Regions from separate parts of the Homo sapiens genome. Here regions 1, 2 and 4 are each linked to region 3. Evidence: fine-mapped expression QTL. A gene starts in region 3. Each other region holds a variant in brackets. All regions are shown on one strand. Distances are between the middles of the regions.

The links.
Region 1: its variant is fine-mapped to the expression of PUM2 in whole blood (INTERVAL, PIP above 0.99).
Region 2: its variant is fine-mapped to the expression of PUM2 in whole blood (TOPMed, PIP above 0.99).
Region 4: its variant is fine-mapped to the expression of PUM2 in whole blood (TOPMed, PIP 0.92).

What each region holds. Positions count from the first base shown.
Region 1 is chr2:20,258,390-20,263,537 of GRCh38, reverse strand. PUM2 (pumilio RNA binding family member 2) reads left to right here. Exons shown (of 21, transcript NM_015317.5): 14 at 78-345; 15 at 3,072-3,201. Among named protein-coding and RNA genes, the nearest start is that of SDC1, 36 kb to the right of the region's middle. The variant A/TTA (reference allele first, on the strand shown) is at 2,008.
Region 2 is chr2:20,222,109-20,227,238 of GRCh38, reverse strand. It overlaps SDC1 (syndecan 1), which reads left to right and starts at 2,109. Exons shown (of 5, transcript NM_002997.5): 1 at 2,109-2,437. The coding sequence starts at 2,372. RefSeq lists enhancers at 782-1,461, 1,462-2,141, 3,901-4,407, 4,408-4,915 and silencers at 1,693-2,072, 2,133-2,552, 2,593-2,652, 2,673-3,132, 3,543-3,742. The variant C/A (reference allele first, on the strand shown) is at 3,236.
Region 3 is chr2:20,347,920-20,353,067 of GRCh38, reverse strand. PUM2 (pumilio RNA binding family member 2) reads left to right here and starts at 2,224. Exons shown (of 21, transcript NM_015317.5): 1 at 2,224-2,471. RefSeq lists enhancers at 865-1,494, 1,702-1,791, 1,495-2,126, 2,127-2,756 and a silencer at 1,952-2,841.
Region 4 is chr2:20,246,170-20,251,317 of GRCh38, reverse strand. It overlaps PUM2 (pumilio RNA binding family member 2), which reads left to right. Exons shown (of 21, transcript NM_015317.5): 21 at 1-2,581. It also overlaps the pseudogene RNU7-113P. Among named protein-coding and RNA genes, the nearest start is that of SDC1, 24 kb to the right of the region's middle. The variant T/C (reference allele first, on the strand shown) is at 2,518.

The sequences.
Region 1 (5,148 bases), 90 kb after region 3:
ATTTGTAGCTAAAGTAAATTTTATTTGAGGAATAACTTTGTCAAAAATACTTGCTGACCATAGCTGCTTTGTTGTAGGAGGACTGACAAATGGTAGTGGTCGATATATCTCTGCAGCACCTGGAGCAGAAGCAAAATATCGAAGTGCTTCAAGCACTTCCAGTCTATTTAGCTCCAGCAGCCAGCTCTTTCCTCCTTCCCGGCTTCGGTATAATAGGTCTGATATTATGCCTTCTGGCCGCAGTAGATTATTGGAAGATTTCAGAAACAACCGCTTCCCAAACCTTCAGCTTAGAGACTTGATTGGACATATAGTTGAGTTTTCTCAAGACCAGCATGGTTCTAGGTAGGTGATTATGATATTTCTCACTTCATTTTTGCTTTGAAAATTGCTGCCTTATAAAAGCTTAAATTTTTCTGGACTTTAGTCTGCATTAAAGTTGGAAGCTTTTAAGAGCTAAAATTCAATATGGATTATATGTTTTTTCTTTCATGTTAGGATAAATTATAAAAATACGGGTTTTAATTTTTTATAGTTTTCCAGTTTTTTACAGTGAGAATATTGTTATGATGAGAATATAGCAGGGCCCCCTCCATTGGATTATTTTGATTACATCGGCTCTGTATTACATTTGTGGGCTTAAGTGACCCTCATGGTGTGTTTAAAAAATATAGCAAACAATGTTAAATGCCTTTGTGTTGCATTATAGGTTGGTATTCAGTGTGACTTGGCTTAGACTGAAACATTTCACATTTGTTATAGGAAAATTTGGTGCCTTTTTACATTAAAACGAATGTAATACATGAGAGATACATCTGAATTAACATTGTAAAGATAGCTTAGAAAGGAAAATAGAATTGTAACACATTTGATAAATTTAAGATATTTTCTCTCTTTATAGCTTTAAGGTAAACCTCAAGTTTTTAAGTCATTTTAGATTAGATGGTGTACAAATTTTGTCTCCCTATACAGTCATGCATCACTTAATGACGGGGATACGTTCTAGAAAATACGTTGTTGTGTGAACATTAAAGAGTGTACCTATGCAAACCTAGATGGCATAGCCTACTACACACCTACTCTGTATATTGCGCCTAGGCTGCAAATCTGTACAGCATGTCACTGTACTGAATACTGTAGGCATTTGTAACAATGGTATTTGTATACCTACGCATAATAAACAATAGAAAAGATACAGTTAAACTATAGTATAAAAGATTAAAAAATCATATGCGTGTGTAGGGGACTTAATGTGAATGGAGCTTGCAGGACTGGAAGTTGCTCCGGGTGAGTGAGTGAGTTGTGAGTATATGCGAAGGCATAGGACATTACTGTACACTCCTCTAGACTTTATAAACACTGTACACTTCAACTACACTGAATTTATTTAAAACTTTTTTTCTTCAATAATAAATTAACCTTAATGTAACTTCTCCCCACTTTGAGACAGGGTCTTACTCTGTTATCCAGGCTGGAATACAGTAGCATGATCATCACTCACTGCAACCTCAACCTCCTGGGCTCAAGCAGTCCTCCCACCTAAGCATCCCGAATAGCTGGGACTACAGGCACGCACCATCACACCTGGCTAATTACTTAAAATTTTTTTGTAGAGACAGGGTCTCACTGTGTTGCCAGGCTGAGCTTACTGTAACATTTAAGCTTTTTAATTTTTTTTAACTTACTGACTTGTAATAACACTTAGCTTAGAACAGAAACACATTGTACAGCTGTACGAAAATATTTCCTTTGTATGCTTATTCTATGAGACTTTTTCTGTTTACAGATTTTTTAAACTTTTTGTTAAGAACTAAGACACAAATGCACACATTAGCCTATACAGTGTAAAGATCATCAGTTTCACTTTGTTCTAACTCCATGTCTTCTTCCACTAGGAGATCTTTAGCAGCAACACCTATGGAGCTGTCCTCTCCTATGATAACAGTGCTTTTTCTGGAATACCTTCTGAAATCTACCTGAGGGTGTTTTACTTTTTTTTTTTTTTTT[A/TTA]AACAAGTGGAATACACTCTAAAATAACAATAAAAAGTATACTAAATACACAAACCAGTAACTCAGTTGTTTATTATCAGATACCGTACACAATTATATGTACTACACTTTTTTTTTTTTTTTTTTTTTTTTTTTTGGAGACAGAGTCTCACTCTGTCGCTTAGGCTGGAGTGCAATGGCATGATCTCGGCTCACTGCAACCTCCTCCGCCTCCTGGGTTCAAGTGATTCTCCTGCCTCAGCCTCCTGAGTAGCTGGGCTTACAGGCGTCTGCCACCGTGCCCAACTAATTTTTATATTTTTGGTAGAGACAGGGTTTCACCATGTTGGCCAGGCTGGTCTCGAACTCCTGACCTCAGGTGATCCACCCACCTCTGCCTCCCAGAGTGCTGAGATTACATGCGTGAGCCACTGCACCCGGCCATACTATACTTTTATAAACTGACAGTGCAGTAGGTTTATGTCATCATGAACACCTGAGTAACGTATTGCACTATGATGTTATGACAGTTCCTACCCAATAGGAATTTATCTCCATTATAATCTTATGGGACCACCATTGTATATGTGGCTTGTTGTCAATTGAAATGTGGTTAAGCAGTGCATGACTGTAGTTGGTAGTTCCTTCAGAGTAACAAATGAGCCTTGTGTCACCCAGAATGGCTTTCTTGCTTAGGAATTCATTCATGTTGGATGAATTTTACTTCTAAGGGTTTCCTTTATTATGTTCTAAAAGTTAGATGTTTAGTAATACATTGTATATTATGAAAAATAAATGAATAAGCAGCAAAATTTACGTAATTTTCTTATTGATTATAATGTAACCAACCTAAGAAAGATTAAACATCTTTATATCCAGGTTTTTTGTCACTCTATCTTTAGATAAGGTGTTATAAAGAAATGCTATATAACTTTTGTCCTTTTTGCTGTAAGTTAGCTGTCTACTATATAAAGTATGGTAATATTTATGGAAATAACTTGCAGTGCATATATGTGGAAGGGTAGGGTGTAATACTCAAGTGTATTAAAAAACATATTGTCATATTAAAAATGTTCCCTATGTAGATTCATACAGCAAAAACTAGAGAGAGCTACTCCAGCTGAGCGACAGATGGTATTTAATGAAATTCTGCAAGCAGCCTATCAATTAATGACTGATGTTTTTGGCAACTATGTTATACAGAAGTTTTTTGAGGTAAGGATTCATGCATATTTGTATATCCGCCCATCCAGCTGTTGTATACTTGATGCTAAGAAAAGCTCTGAAAGTTGGGTAAAGTCATTTTCATATAAAAAAAGATAATAAGCCAGGGATAAGATATTTACAAATTATATATGCGGTAAACATTTTATCCAGGATATATTGTAATGAACTCCTAAAAAGTCAACAACAAAAAGACAACCCAAATGACAAATGGACAAAGGACTTGCACAGACATTTCTCTATGTAAAATAATACAAAAGGCCACATAGGCCATGAAAAGATGCTCAACATCCTTACTAATCAGGGAAATGCAGATCAATCTCACAATGAGATACCATTTTATACCTACTAAGATGACTGTAATCGGAAAACATAAAATCGGAAAATAACAAATGTGGATGAGGATATGGAGAAATTAGAGCCCTCATAAATTGCTGGTGGAAATGTAAAATGGTGTAGCTGCTATGGAAAACAGTTTGGCAGTTTCTCAAAATTAAATATTGAATCACCACACAATCCAGCAATTGTACTCCTAGGGGTACAATTGAAAGCAAATGAATTGAAAGCAGGAACCTGAACACCAGTATATATTGCACCATTATTCACGATAGCCAAAAGGCGGAAACAGCCCAAGTGTCCGTCAACAGATGAGTAGATAAATACAAGTGGTATATGTATACATTATAGAATATTATTCAGCCATAAAAAGGAATGACGTTCTGATACATACTACAACATGGATGGACCTTGAAAATACTAACTTAAGTGAAACAAGCCACACACAAAAGGACAAACATTGATAGTGATCTACCAGTATGAAATGTCTAGAATAACTAATAGTGGCATAAAGTAGATTAGGGGTTACTGGGCCTAGAGGAAGAAGGGTTTAGAAAGTTACCATTTAATGGATACAGCATTTGTGTTTGAGGCCACGGAAAAGATTTGGAAACAAATAGTGATAGTGATGGTGGTTGCACAACAGTGTGAATATAATTAATGCTACTCAATCACCTAGCTAAAAATGGTTCAAATGGCAGTTTGTCACAAAAAAAATTTTAACATGAACCACTTTAAATGAAAATTTGCTATTAATCCTGATTCATATTTGAAAATATAAAGCATTGGTAGTCAATCTTTGGTAAAGTAGTTAATGAATAACACTATAGTCTTTGGATTTATAGATGTGTGTTATTTTACAGTTTAGCCAATTTTTAAATTTATAAGCATCTGTGTTGTAGCTTAATGACTTTAACAGTTTTTTCCTCAATCATATCAGAATGTAGTTTGATGATTATCTGGGTGAAGAGTTTTGGTGGTCAACGTATGGCTAAGAAAGTTATATATTAAAGATGAAGGGTTTTGGCCGGGCGCGGTGGCTCACGCCTGTAATCCCAGCACTTTGGGAGGCCGAGGCGGGTGGATCATGAGGTCAGGAGATCGAGACCATCCTGGCTAACAAGGTGAAACCCCGTCTCTACTAAAAATACAAAAAATTAGCCGGGCGCGGTGGCGGGCGCCTGTAGTCCCAGCTACTCGGGAGGCTGAGGCAGGAGAATGGCGTGAACCCGGGAAGCAGAGCTTGCAGTGAGCCGAGATTGTGCCACTGCAGTCCGCAGTCCAGCCTGGGCGACAGAGCGAGACTCCGTCTCAACAAAAAAAAAAAAAAAAAAAAAAAAAGATGAAGGGTTTTGTAAAGATGTTCACTTTAAAAGAGTGTTTCTTTAAAAGGTAGTTAACATATTAGTAACAAGGAAATTTTAGTAAGACTTAACCCAAAGAAGTAATAAAAAATTATTATTGGAAACATTTCCCAGTCTATCTTAATTAGCTTCTACCTTAAAGCCCCTGCCCTACATAGTTACTGATAGAATGAATAGACTGCAAACACTGCCTTACTCAAGTTCAACAAAGCAATATTAAGGTCACTTGTTATTAATG
Region 2 (5,130 bases), 130 kb after region 3:
AGATGTTTATACCTATAATCCAGAGCTCTACTTCTAGAGAAAGCCTCACACATGCACTCAAGAAGACAAGTATAAGGGCCAGGCACGGTGGCTCACGCCTGTAATCCCAGCGCTTTGGGAGGCCGAGACGGGTGTATCACCTGAGGTTGGGAGTTCAAGACCAGCCTGACCAATATGGTGAAACCTTGTCTCTACTAAAAATACAAAATAAATAAATAAATAAAAAATTAGCCGGCCTGTGGTGGCGTGCGACTGTAATCCCAGCTATTTAGGAGGCTGAGGCGGGAGAATTGTTTGAACCCGAGAGGTCGAGGCGATTCTCCCTGCCTCAGCCTCCCGAGTAGCTGGGATTATAGGCACCTGCCACCATATCCGGCTAATTTTTGTATTTTTAGTAGAGATGGGGATTCACCGTGTTAGCCAGGCTGGTCGAGAACTCCTGACCTCAGGTGATCTGCCCGCCTCGGCCTCCCAAAGTGCTGGGGTTACAGGCGTGAGCCATCGCGCTTGGCCGTGAGTGACTTTTAAAAAATGAAAAGACTCCATCAAATCCTCCCTGACCCCAGTTTCCTCTGTTGTGAGCAGTAGAGAAAGGTAAGATTCCAAAATTCCTATTTTTCCACCATACTGGGTTGAAGGGATCTGTGGAGCCACCCTCTGGTAGAGGTAGAACCTTCGAAAAGGGCATTTTTAATCCACAGGGACTCCTCGAGCTCGGCTGGACCTCCGTGGTGCCGTGCTGTGAGACCATCCATCACTCAGGCACTCAGCGAGCCCACATCGGCCCCCAAGAACCCTGATGAAGGTCTTCCTGCCCCCTAGACAGACTTGGGGAGACGGACACCCCAAAAGCGAGAGCTCTTTGAGGTCAAACAGGTGCTCAGGAGCAGGGGTACAAGCAGGCCATCATCTTTTAGTGCTGTGAGGAGGAGTGGGGGGATGAGATGGGGACGCAGGAGGCTGCTCGGCTCCAGAGCCTGCTCCACGGTGGAAGGTGGAGGAGAGTCCAGGGTCCCACGGTCAGTCCCTGCGTGGCCCAGGAAGGTTTAATTCTTTTAAAGAGGAACACTGGACACTTCCCGATATTTTCTTGGTCCCCAGCTCAGGCCGACCCAAGTTCTTGCCTTCCGCCTAGGGAAGACAGGGGAGGACGACGCCATCTTTGGTCTCAGGGCCCAGGTGCGAAGGTCGTTTGGCACCATCTCTCCTGCCTGCCAGATGTGGGCAGGGCCCGTCCGGTTCTTCCCCTTTGCTCTCTCGGCCGTTTCCCCTACACCCGCAGGCCTTCCACAGCTTTTTGAACTGAGGCCCAGGGCCTCGCAGGGGATCTCGAAGGAGCAGCAACTGCACGGTGCTCCTCAGATCCGCGTGCCCGAGGTCACCGGGGAACAAAGAAGTTACTTATTTTTCCTTTTAGCTCAGATGAAGAGAGAGGGCGTTGTCTTCCACAGAAAAACGCTGCGAACTCCGCCCCCGTCCCCCTTTTTCTTGCAGCCCTTCCGTGCGGGTGCAGCTGTTTAAACTAAGGCCCCAAGTCTCCAGCACTTTGTGGAGTGCAGGAAGAACGCGAGCGTACGGGAGAATCTGGGCCGGCGGGGCGCAGCGAGCCGCATCGCAGCTGGAGGACAGCCGGGGTGTGTCTGTGTGTGTTTGCCCGTCGGTTGAAGGCCCCATCGCCCCCGGGTCCCCGCCCTGCCCCAGAAAGCGTTCCCCAAGAGAGCTAGGAGTCCTGCGCACCTGGAGCGCGCTCCGCGTCCACGCCCAGAGGGCGCTGCACACTCGCGCCCGAGGACTGCCTGCCCCCCTTCAGCCCCTCTCCCGGGCTGCGCCTCCGCACTCCGGGCCCGGGCAGAAGGGGGTGCGCCTCGGCCCCACCACCCAGGGAGCAGCCGAGCTGAAAGGCCGGGAACCGCGGCTTGCGGGGACCACAGCTCCCGAAAGCGACGTTCGGCCACCGGAGGAGCGGGAGCCAAGCAGGCAAGAACCTTAGGAGCGGGCCGGGGGTGGGGCGTTCCGAAGGGGCCGGGAGGGGTGGCTGGGGGGCGGGGTCCTGGGGGGTGTGGACTGGGGCTGGCCGGGAGACCTGGCGGAGCTGGGGGTGGGGGGCCAGTTTTTGCAACGGCTAAGGAAGGGCCTGTGGGTTTATTATAAGGCGGAGCTCGGCGGGAGAGGTGCGGGCCGAATCCGAGCCGAGCGGAGAGGAATCCGGCAGTAGAGAGCGGACTCCAGCCGGCGGACCCTGCAGCCCTCGCCTGGGACAGCGGCGCGCTGGGCAGGCGCCCAAGAGAGCATCGAGCAGCGGAACCCGCGAAGCCGGCCCGCAGCCGCGACCCGCGCAGCCTGCCGCTCTCCCGCCGCCGGTCCGGGCAGCATGAGGCGCGCGGCGCTCTGGCTCTGGCTGTGCGCGCTGGCGCTGAGCCTGCAGCCGGCCCTGCCGGTGAGTGCGGCCGGCGGCCAGGCGGGGAGGCGGCGGGAAGCCGGGACTGGTCACCCGCGGATGCCGGCGGGTGCACGTGGAGGGGGAGGGGGAGCGAAGACTTCCCTTCTTCCCGCGCTAGCCCAGCGGGTCCCGGGACGGTGAGCCCCGAGACCAGGGCTCCAGCCCCAATTTCCTCCGCTGTCGGTGGGTGCCGCACCGGTCCCGCGCTGGGGAGGGTGGGGGGCCGGGGCCCCGCGCTCAATTATGTAAAACGTCTCCACATCTGTCGGAGCCCGCCAGCCCACAGCGGCGCCCGGGGTCGCCCGTTCCCACCCTCCTCGCCCCGGCCACCGCGGCGGCCGGGCCCCCGTCGGTGACCCGGGGGGATGCAGTGACCGCGGCCACAACGCCCCCCCTGCAGACCCTAATTCAAACCAGACCCGCGGGCTTGCGCCCCAGCGCCGCCGAGCCCGGGCGCCCCGCCCCTTGCGCCAGGGCAAGTTTGGGCGCAGCGCGGCCGGCGCGGGAGCGGGAGGCGGCCGCGTTGGCCCGGGGAGCCGGGCCAGGGCTGCGTGGGGGGCGCGGGCGAGCGTCTGCAGGGCCCTCGGGCTTGCCGTGGGCGGCTCGAGGTGAGCTGAGCCGGCCCGGCAGCGGGAGGTTCCGGGAAGTTGGCCTCGGAACGCTGGAGACCCGGAGGAGCCCAACTTCTGGGCTGCTGAAGTTGAGCTGGCCCCGGAGGGCGCGTTCCCGTGCCGGGCACGGCCGAGGCGCAGGCGCCTTCCACGCGAGGGGACCCGGGAATGGCCTCCCGCTCCC[C/A]GGCTCGGCTTTGTGCTGAAGCCGCGCGGAGGGAAGGCGGGTCCCTTGGCCCGCCCAGTGCAGCTGGGAGAAAAGAGGGGCAGATGTGGAGCTCGGGGCTGTAAGAGGCCTTTGGGTGGGATGCAGCATCCACCTTCAGCGGGGCTGACGCTCCACTAAAGAGGGACGTGGCCGACAAAGAGCAGCCTGAGGGTCCCCAGAAAGTGGCTCTCCCGCCCCGGCCACCGGCCGCTAGCCCGCCTTCCCCAATGGGGGCGCTTTGTTCTCGGCCCCTGTAACCCTTTCCTGGGAACAGCCCCGTAACGCCGGCCTTGACGGGGGCTGGGACCTGGGCCGCAGCCAGGTGTCAGCGCGGGCCGCCCGGTGCCCGAGTCTGCCGCCCGAGTTCGCCTCCCCAGCCCCCGCGCCCGGTGCTGGCGTCCCGGGGTCCCTCCTGCGGGCCGGCTCGGCCATCCCCAGGGATGCAGAGGGGAGGTGCGGAGCCAGGGGCGCTTCCCCTTCCGGAAGTGGCGGTGTCTCGCCACTACATCTGGACAGTTCGACTTCCCCAGCTCTGGCAAAGGGAGGCACGTGGGCAGGGAAGGGGCGGGGGCGGGGTGGGCACTCGGGTTCTCCACTGCTAATGTGGCATCTGGACAAGTCTCAGCAGCGCTGACCCTCCGTAAGCGTTGCCTCGTGTAGTAGCTGCCAGTTATTGAGCGCTTTGGTTTTTTTTTTCTTTACAGAGTCTGTCTCATGGGAGATGAGGTAGGGACAGTCGTTTCTGAGACCGATGTGTAAAGCGCCCTCCCTGCTTCCCAGGTGACTCGTGCTTCCAGACATTTTCCGGTCCAGGAGAGGTCCCTGTGCCTATTGAACTGTGAATGGGCTGGACTGTGAGGGGTATCTGGGAGCACGGGGAGGGCCATGATTTCCGAGCTGGGTCTCATGCACTCCTGGCTTTCAGGTCCAAGAAGCTGCTCTCTAGGGTGGTGGTTTCTGTGGAACTGAGACTGTGCTTGGAGTCTTCGCTCCGAGTTTGGAGAAGAGAATGGAGCTGGGTGCCTTACCTCCCTGGACCGCTGGGCATCACCTCACTGCCCCATTCTCGCACATGATGGGGCCTCAGCAGGGGCGGCTGAAGTTGGGTCCTCCACCTATTTCCGGCTGGATTTAGGAGGGCTGCTGGTTCCCTTGCCTGCCTGGGGTAAAGCAGACATTCCAGAGCCCTGGGATCCCACCGCACCCGTTAATGCTGGGGAGGCAGGTGGAGTTTGGGCTTCCCCGTGAACTGCCTTTCCTGGAGTTTTCTGTGGGCTGGGGCAGATGCTGCAGTGTGAGGCATTATTTCTTGCCCAGAAACTTGGACATAGGGCCCAGGAGGCAGGAGAGTCTCAAAAGGGGAAAGGAGGGAGACTCCCTGGAGCTGCAGGGAGGGAAGGCTTCCTGGAGGAGGTGCTTGAGCTGAGCCTGAAAGCCCCACCTGAGCTTTGGGGTCAGACTCTGGCTTGAAGCTTAGGTGTTCTTTTTGCTTTTTCTGATCTTACAAAGATTAGTTTGTTTTCTCTTTCCCAGTTCTGCCCTCTTCCTCTTACAGTGAATGTCCATGTTAGGTTAAAGGTGGGGGCATGCACTGCCTTCCCAAAGCTCTGATACCCCTTTCCTAAAAGAAATCAGGCAGCTGGGATTTGCTTTAAGATGGGAGAAGGTATTTGCAAGTGGCAGAGATCTGACCCTCTCTGAAAGTTCACTCTGGCCCCAGTGGGAAGCAGGTCAGAAACCCCCTGGGGACCAGGGAAGCAAGGAGTGACTGAATGGGTGAGGGGAGGCTGCTAGGAGAGGAGGTTGCTCAAAACCACTCCCAAGAGACTAAAACAGGTTTGTCTAAAAAGGTTTCTCTCTCTCTTTCTCTCTGT
Region 3 (5,148 bases):
TTTAGGCACCCCCCAGGCCTTGTTCAACTGCACAGGTCACGTGCCTGTGCTGAAGCTGGCCTTGTTCATGGGGATATCTGGAACATTAAATGAGACAATGTATGGAAAGTGCTTTGGTGCTTGCATGTTGTTAGTACCAAACAAATAACTATAGCTTACACGTGGCTTTTAGTAGGACTCTTGGTTGTAACAGAAATTCACTTTATCTAGCTTAAGCAAAGAAGCAGAATTTACCATAAGGATCCAGGAATGCGGCTCAGACTCCAAGGGTAGAGGCAGCCAGCCAGGCACAGAAACATGTGAAAGAGAGACATTGTCAGCACTCTCCTTTTCTCTCTCAACTCCACTCTTTCTCTACAGGTTCCCTGTCTTACAGGATGGAACCAGTCTGCCCAAGGGATCCCAGGTCCAAGAGACTTTCGAGGTTGGGGTCTCTTAGTCCCAATTCCATATTCTAAGGGAGGGCCTGTGATGGATTTATCTAGTTTCACCCACACTAAGCAACTGTATATAAAGACTCTTCTGCTATTATCAGCTCAACGGAGGGGAAAGGAGAAGGAAGGCAAAATGTGTACACCCCAGCATCTCCCATTCTTACTTGATCGTGAGACATTTCTTAAAGGAACATCTATTAACACTGAACACAGCACACTAGGGAAATGCTGTCGTGGGTGATGGGGAGCAATGAGATGGTTGAAGCAGAGGCCTGAGCGCCAGGAATTGGATTTGCATTTTAGATAGCAGTGAGCAGAACTGATTGGAGGGAGTGAGACTGGAGACAGGAAAGCTGATTAAGAGCCAGCTACAGAAATCCAGACCTGGGAAGCAAGGCTAGCATTAGTGAGGAGGCAGAGGAAGACTGTCTCCAGAATTACTTGGGAAGTAAAAATCTGCGAGGCTTGGTAAGTTATTTATATTTGGAGTCGGGGTAAGAGGAAGAGACAAGGATGGTTCTCAGAGGTGTAATTTGGGGAATGAATAGGTGGTGACACTGCCAATTACAGAGACAGTACAAGAGTGGGGGGTAGGGGATGGGTGTGACTTCAGTTTTTAACATGCTTGGTGACAAGAAAATTCAAGTGAAAATATCTAGAAGCCTGAAATATGAGCCTAAGGTAGGGGCTTGGGATGGATTTCAATGTCAGACATTTTTCAGTAATAGTTAAAAACCGAAGAGCCCATGTGTATTCAACAGGCACTTGCGGGCACAGTGTGAAACAAAACACAAGGTCCTTGCCCTCGTGGAGCTCACAGTCGCCTAGGGAAGACATATATTAAGCAAACTATACGGGAGGCCCTGAATATTTACGAAGTGCAGCATGTCAGGAGAGCCAGGAGCTGTGCAAACAAACCATCAAGAACAAATCGGACACGGTGCCTGTTACAGCTGTGTGACCTGGAGCCGGTTAGGTTAGAATCCTGGAATCACCACTGCTTTGCATGGGGGTCCAGGACAGCAAGGCAGATTTGGAGTTTCCAACTAGCCTGTAAACGGGGAAGGAGAGAGCGCTTAGTACGCGAGAAAAAGAAACAGCCAACGAGTGAGAATCACTGGCCCAGCTGGAGAACGACCTGAGTTTCCTTTGTGTGCACCGGGACCAAGCACTGGGGGCCGACAATTTGCTGAGAGCTGGCTCCACCTGCCTGGGGTGCAACCACGAGAAGAGTGACAGCCCTCTCGCAGGGTACAATCTTCCACCCCCAGATGCATCTCCCTCGTCTGGTTGTGGGGAGGTACAGAGTGAAAGTTAAAGGCCTGAATTAACGTCCGGCTCTTGTGGGCGCCAGCACTCTGGAAGCGAAATGCCAGGAGTACCCCACGGTGGGCGGCGCGGGCGCAGACACCCGCACACCCAGTTGGGGGAAAACAGTGAGCAACCGGGTAGGAAGCCGAGGGTAAGAAGATTCAGAAGGCGAGGCCCCACGCGGGAAGACAGTCGAACACAGCGTTTGGCAACAGTACGCCTGCGCTCTCCGAGCCCGCCGCGGCGGAGCCCAGGAGGGAAGCGCGAGCCCGCAAGGTGAGGGCGGGGGAGGGCACGCCGGAGAGGCGGCCAAACACGTGAGAGCGCGGAGAACGTGCGCACGCGCAGGGCGCCCCCGGCCCGCGCGGCGGCAGCGCGGGAGCAGGGACGCAAGGCATTAAAAGGAGCCGCGCCTTGGTGAGCGCTCCCCCTCCCCTTTCTCCCGGGGTGCACTGCGCGCGCCCGGTGGGCGGGGGGGAGGGGAGGGCAGGCGGCGGTGGCAGCCATGTTGTTGTGAGTCTCTGTGTCTCACCCTCGGTACTTCGGTGGTTCGGAGGAGGAGGGGGAGGAGAAGGAGGAGGTGGGGTGGGGGGGGAGGGTGGTAGGTGGAGAAAGAAGACATTGCCGCCACCGAAGGCGGAGGAGGGGGAGGACCGCCAAGAGCGACGCCGCCGTGTGCCCAACGGTCGGTGTCCCCGGCTGAGGCAGCGCGGCCGCAGCAGCCCTGTAAGTCAGTCCGCGTTCGCTCTTTCTCCGGTCCTTTGGCGCCGTCGAGGATGGCTCCCCAGGCTTTGTGCGGCGGCCTCGGCGGGAGCCGATCGCCAGCGGGAGGGCGGATAGGGCCTGCTGAGTGCCCGGGCCGGTGCGGCCTGGGGCCCGCTCGCACAATGCAGGGGGAGGGGTGCCGGAAGGGGGTGTGCGCGTGCGGGGGAGGGGGCGCCGCGCCGGCCGCTTTCCCGCTTCCTTCCCTCTGCGGGGCCGCCGCCTCGGGGGCGTGGGGCGCCGACCCGGTTCTCCCTCCGATTCGGCGCGCTGGAGGTTAGAGACCGAGCTGTCGGCCCTAGGGTTCGGAAAGAGGGGAGAGGCCGGGTGGCCCCAGAGAAGCATGCGGATTGCAAGTGGGTGAAGAGGAAGGAGTGGGTTTATGAAAACAAGTGTGGGCATTTTCAAAGGCCCGAGTGTGTCCGGGAAAAGCTTGCCGTGGACAGATGTGGGTATGAAGCAGTGACTTGGATTCGCCTTGTTTAGGTTATAGGAACGGATTTCGATATTCAGAAAAATATGTAAATTAAAACCAAAGACAAGATTAGCGGCTTCTACTATTTGAGCAGTAGTTTTGTATCTGAATTGGGTCAGGTTTTGGGGAAAATGTTTAAAGTTTCATGCCCAAACACGTGTAAAAGTTAGTGTTGTTTCTGAAAACACAGCCAGAGAAAACCTACTTAACTTAGCTTTTTATTCTAACATACGTAAACTTTTGAAGAGAGGAATGTATTGCCAGCATATTAGGTGCAATAAGACATCATGTTAGGACTTAGTACTTTGAGATTTTTACTTGTTGAGAAAACGGGGCAGATGTTTTGGTGAAGGAAAACATGAGAAAAATGCTTGTAAACGGTGAAGAGAAATGTAATACCTGTAAAGGTACTGTATGTCAAGAAAACAATTTTAATAAAGGGAGTTACCGAAGGATTTTAAAAGCTTGTTTAATGGTTAGATTTCGTGTTTAACAGGTGACTCTTCACCATGTGACCTGGAGTATTGGAAGATGACTTAAGGAATCCTGTAAATAAAAAAAAAAAAACAAAAATGAGTATTTTCAACTTGTTTCTCTTCCTAGCCTCCTTTTAAACAATGATTTACTTCATTTGCTCAATCATTATGAATAAAAATGATGGCATTTTCCGTGCTGCAAGAATTTCTTTAAAATTCCGATTTTTGGTGAAATTGCATTGTGTAGAATTTTCTTGGTGTGCATGAGGGCAGTTTTTGTATGCAGAAAAGGTTTACGATAATCTTAAAAATAAAATTTTATTTCAGAAACCTGGTTCTTGAGGATTTAAGTCCAGTTTTTAAATTTTGTTTACAGGTCTAGCTATTTTGAGTTATAATTGCCAGTAACTTACGCATTTTCCAGCAATTTAAGCTGTGTTTAACACATGCTTTCCTTAATTTGAGTCCAAAGTTCTCTTAGGTGTTTCAGCATTTAGCAAGATTTCAACTTTTTAAAAGAGCCTAAATTAATTACTGACATTTACTTTGCTCTTACAAAGCTGTCACTTTAGAATAAATTCTCAGGCATTACAAATACTGTATATAAATTACCAAATAATACTTGGATTTTGTTTCTCTCAAGCATTCCATACTTGTTTATGAATCTTTTTTTCTTGTTTGAGACAGGGTCTGGTTCTGTCGCCCAGACTGCAGTGCAGGTGGTGAGATCTGGGCTCACTGCAGCCTCCGCGTCCCGGGCTGCAACTGTTCTTCCACCTGAGCCTTCCGAGTAACTGTAGCTGGGGGTACAGGCGCACGCCACCACGCCCGGCTAATTTTTGCATTTTTTGTAGAGACAGGGTCTCACTGTGTTTCCTGGGCTGAACTCCGATCTCAAGCGATCCTCCCGCCTCGCCCTCCCAGAGTGCCGGGATTACAGGCGTGAGCCACCACACCCGGCTTGTTTATAAACCTTTCTGGTGTGGAAAGATAATTTGCCTTCCGGAGTAGGTACTTATCTTAGTTAACAAAAGTAATTATGACCAGAGATTTGGGCCAGGTGTGAAATCCACAGCCAATTTTCTCAGTGACCAAGCTGTCTCCTTTTTATAGACCCTAACATGATCTGCATAGTTTTAAGTGGAGGTTGATTCCTGTCTCCTAAACTCAAGTTCTACATACGTCCTAACTTAAATACCTTGTTGGGTTTCCAGGATATGGAAATACTTGTATTTTTTCATATTCTTAAAATTTACAGATATTTAAAATATCCGAATATTTGAGTCTCACATGGCTTTGTCTACATGGCTGCAATCACAGCTTGAGACCATTTTACTAACAGGTGTGATTAAGATAAAAATTACACTTATAGCCAGGTAAATTGGTCTGTGGCATATTAAGATTTCTTGCTTTTTTTCTTTATTATTATTATTATTATTATTAATTTTTAATATAGGTGAGGTCTTGCTGTGTTGCCCAGGCTGGTCTCAAACTCCTGGGCTCAAGCAGTTCTCCCGCCTTGGCCTCCCAAAATGTTGGTATTAAAAGCATGAGCCCCGGTGCCAGACCCTTGCTGTTTTTAGGAAATGCATTAAAATAGTCTGACTTGTTCGTTTTGTCCTGCCTCCTCACTTCGCTTTGATGAGTTTGTAAGAGGGAACGCTGATGAAATATGGCAGAGCCCCTTCCT
Region 4 (5,148 bases), 100 kb after region 3:
ACTGTATCAAAAATAAAAAGCTGTCACATATTTTGTAAATTTTTACCTTGTAAAGTCACAAAAATAGTTTTTAAAGGAAAAAGTACAGTATTCTTTTAATAAACTGGCTCACAGTCTGGTAGGTCTACAACCCCATAGCACAACAGGTTTATAGAGATGTATATAGAATTATAGTCCTTATTTTTTTCCTTTGCGTGAAACCTTTTATAACAGATTAACAATCAACTGCATAAATATTATTAATATTTTAAAAAGAGTTAAGTTGTATTTTGATAATTCACAAACTATCATGCAAATAACGAGTAAGTAGACAAGAATAAAGTGGTTTGAGATGAAAAGAACCTAACATTATTTACAGTAGATGTGGTTTTAATACAATTACTGCCCTAAAATGTCTCTGGCAATGTACAGAAATATTGTATATACTTACATATGTAATTGTTGTAAGAGTTAAATACAAAATCATGGTGACACTTCCAATTAAGTGCACTAAATGAAAAGTTAAGTCACTTATTAACTTTTCAGTTTGGTTTGCAATGAGAAAGAGTGGAAATTTGTATTTTGTTTTGCTTATAGAATTACAGACATGTTGAGGAAGTGTTGAGCTTTATTTTGCTTTTTCATAGAGGCAGAAAGTAGGAACCAGATAGAGATGAAAAGGGGCCACTGAAAAGTGAATTTGATAGCTCAGCATTTAAGCATGATTACATATTCAGATAGCTCTTTTTGCTTTCTATAAATATATGCATTGTGTGTGTAGTAATAGATGTAAGTTTACACTTTGAAAGGAAATCTTGTTTCAATGTTTATTATAAAAGCCTTGCTAATTTAGTAGTGATGCTTTCCTTGGTTGTACAGGTGTACATTTGTAAACCTTCATGCTGTAAATGGAATTTGTTTTATCTCTTTGGGATACATTTGCATTTTAGTGTACATTTACGTCCCTGCCCTCTTTGACCTGGCAATATAGTGTTGTATAATGTAAATTTATTTCTCCAAATCGAGAGTGATTTTTTAAAAATTTTTTATCTTTATATGGTTTCAGAAGTATGAACCAGCTTTCTTTTTATTATTGTGAGATCATTTTGTTTTATAACATAGTTGTTGACTGTTAATATGGACCTGCTAGAATTTGGATCACTTTCAATTGAAGTCAGGGTATTGTGCATAATAGAAAGTATTGGACTGAGATATTTGGTTACCATGGAGGCCAATGCTTTTTTCATCTTATTAAATGTGATGTGACTTTTTTCTTTGTACAGAAGAGTACTGTATTTTTGAATAGCCTACTCCCAAGTAAGAGCAAATCTGTATGATAACATTTTTTCCTCTGGACATAAGACATAACAGTAACACGATGTACATTTACAAGCGGCCTTATGTACATTTCCCAACAATCTTTTTAAGGCAAAATTGTGACCATATGTGTATAATTAAAATCGTTTTTAATCCTTTGCCTATGAAAATATTTTGGAAAAAAACTTGCTGTGTATATTCAGTTTCTGAAAGATAAAGAAAGTGCTTTGTATTTTGTTGAAGTCAGTATTTTGTATAAACATTTATGTTGACCCACTTATGTTCAGTGCTGAAAACTAAAATGAACATGCTATTCTGTCAGCTGAATATGGAAGAGATCTTTTTTTACTAGAGATCTGCAGAAGAAACGCAATCTTCTGAGCACAATATGGAATCTAAAGGTTTTATCACTTAGTTGTTCATATTATGAACCTAAAAATAATGGCATAAAGTTTGGGGATGCCAGGCATACTTTTTCATGTTTGGTGTTGAGTTATTTTACTTTTCTAACCCAACATTCCTTGGTGAGACCATTAAATCCAAACACTTGTCACCGTTCCTTCTCATAGTCACTCTGGGTCATCAGCATGTCCCAGTCACTGCAGCAACGCCTTGTGTTTGTTTCATTTTTTTAAAACCCACACAAAGCCGCTGTCTCACTTTTTCCTACTTTACCAACCTCAGAGTATTTCGGCCCGTATCGAACTTTTGTTCTCAGTATCAGCCCATGGTTTCAGGATCAAAGCTGTCATGTTGGAGATTGGTAATGGCTTTCCTGTCTTTGTACAGTTGAATTCCTAGTCTTCCTTCATCCTTGCCCTCTGTTGGCACAGGCATTATCTCTGCAATTTTAGAAAATGACAAGTAGAGAATACTACATTGAGAAACTAAACCCTCTTCTTGGGGTCCTGATACTCATTCCCATTTGTCCCAGTGCTGACAACCCAATCTTCCCAATACTTTCAGGCCTGCTCTACAAAAGTACCTGTTCTTGTAGAAATTTTACAGTCTGCCATTTTGGGTGCCCACCCCAATTTTTACCTTTTAGTAAGTTGGCATGAAATTTTGGTAAAATCTGAAAATCACATTTCAGAATAAAACAATTGGGCAAAACTACCTAGGCTTTACTCTTGAGTGTCTCCTTTTGATAGGGATTGTTTCTGGACCAGTTTGTCTAAGTCCTGGCTCTTATTGGTTCATATGAAATAATGTTAACTTCAC[T/C]TCTTTGTATATTATGTATAAATTAGAAAATGAAAAATGTGTGAATAACATTGTATGAAATAAACCTGGTCTTGTGTTTTTCTCTAGATAAAATACCCCTCTGTACCTCAGTTATAACTTAAGATTGATTGCCCATTCAGGTTTACTCCGACGTAAAGAAAACAAACATTTTTAACACATGGGTGCTGTTCTGGAGCCACTGATTCCTCTGATGGTATTAATTCCATGCTTTGATTAGTATTTAGGACCTATAACTGCATACTTCATAGGATAAAACTTTTAGCCCGTTTTCACATGAACTCGAGGAGGCAGTGTTGTCTAAAGGTAAACAATTTAAGTTCAGATGTGGATTTAAAGTTTACCTTATTTACACACCTTGTGAACTTTTCTAAACCTTGAGCCCTTAGTCTGTATCAAGGGATAATACTACTTAACTCATTAGTTTTAACAGTGGAGAATATACAAAAAGATAGTTAGAACCTATTTTTTTCTTTTTAAGAGATGGATTCTTGCCTTGTTGGTCAGGTTGGTCTTGAACTTCTGGCCTCAAGTGGTCTTTTTACTTTGGCCTCCCAAAGTGCTGGGATTACAGGCATGAGCCACTATGCCTGGCCAAGAACCTAATTTTTTTTTTTTTTTTTTTTTTTTGACACAGAGTCTCGCATTGTCGCCCAGGCTGGAGTGTGATGGCGCCATCTCAGCTCACTGCAACCTCTACCTCCCAGCTTCAAGTGATTCTTCTGCCTCAGCCTCCCGAGTGGCTGGGACTACAGGTGCACACCACCACACCCGGCTGATAACTTGTATTTTTAGTAGAGATGGAGTTTCACCATGTTGGCCAGGCTGGTCTCGAGCTCCTGACCTCGTAATCTGCCCGCCGTGGCCTCCGAAAGTGCTGGGATTATTGGCGTGAACCACCACACCCGGCCTGGAACCTAATTCTTAATGAATCGCTTGTTAATACCATTTCTGTTTTTCCCATTCTTTCTACAGCTATAAAAAGAAAAAAAGCCAGAACAATTTGATAGACTCCAAAATGGAAACCTGCATAAAGCTAAGTGGGAAAAAGAAATGTCACCATACACATTGTATTTCCTGAAATTTAATTTTGTCTTGGTTTGGGTCTCTTCTGAGCAACCCTCTTGGATTATTGACATACTACCTCACATTGTATTGAAATTTAAAAGGTCTTAACAAGGAAATACCACATCTTCGCACCCTGGCTTACCAACCTAAGGAAAGCAGTTTCCTAAATTCACCTGGGACTAGATGCCCTCGATGACACTTTCTCTGGAAGATTTTAAAGCAGCAGAGGACAAAGAAACCCCTAAAGGAGCCATATTCATTGTCCACCTTCCCTACCTCACTTAAAAGTACCTAGCTTAACATGCCTGGTAGAATTGCCTGGTAGAAATTAGAAAATGTGTCTATGAACAGGGAGCTGAGCAGGAAAAGAGTGCTGAGGCTTCAGGGCTCACCCCTAGGAGGCTGTTCTAAGCACTGCGCTGCAGAGGGGAGTGGGGCCAGGACTGGACTGGACCTTTGTTACTTGTAGGGTCCTATCCTGACTTTCCCACAGAACCTTGTGGCTGAGGAGTATGTTTGTTGTTTTTATTTTTATTTTTTGACAAGATCTGGCTCTCACCTAGGCTGGAGTGCAGTGGTGCCATCACTGCTCACTGCAGCCTCAACCTCCCAGGTTCAAGCAAGTTTCCCATCTCAGCCTCCGAAGTAGCTGGGACCACAGGCTCATGCTACAATGCCTGGCTACTTTTTGTATTTTTTGTAGAGATGGGGTCTGTATGTCGTCCAGGCTGATCTCAAACTCCTGCTCAAGCAATCCACCTGCCTCGGCCTCCCAAAGTGCTGGGATTACAGGCATGAGCCACCAGGCCCAGCCAACTCTTAAGCCAATATAGGACAAGACAGCCCAAGATAGCTCCTGTAGGCAGTTTCTCCAGTTTCTGCTATGTTCCATACACAGAACTTTTTTTTTTGAAAGAGCACAAAAAAATCATAACTGTACGGCTTGTTAATTTTCACAAATAAATACTCATGAATCCAGGATTTAGATCAAGAACCAGAACATTACCAGCACCCAGAAACCTTCCTGCACCCTCTTCCACTGAGTGGCCCTTTCAACCCTTACAAAGCCGGAGAGCTCAAGTTCTGGGCCCTGTGGCCTTGGTGAGCAACACCCTGGACCGATCAGAACGACCCAGTGAGTTGGGAAAACGCTCCTTTTACCGATAAACTTGAAGCAACTCATGACTGTGGCTCTGGCACCACCTCAGCGGAGGCGGAAGTGCCATAGAACTTTTAAAAAATATATTTACCAAGAATTAAAACCAGGTGAAATAGTCTTGTATTTGGTAGTTTAAGGGAAAGCAATTGGCTGGATTAAAATGTATTCAAATGTCAGTGCTCTTTTAGAATTTGTCTAGCAGGTTTTCCAGTTTTTACCGGAAAACCCAACAACAGAAAGATCAACAGAAAGATTGATTCAAACTTTCTTGGGCATCAGAAAGTAATGATTCAGAGTTTGGGCTCTAGAATTAGACTGCCCAGGTGCCAAACACTAGCTTCATATCTAGTAGGTAAGTGGTTTCATCTTTTAAGCCTTAGTTTCTT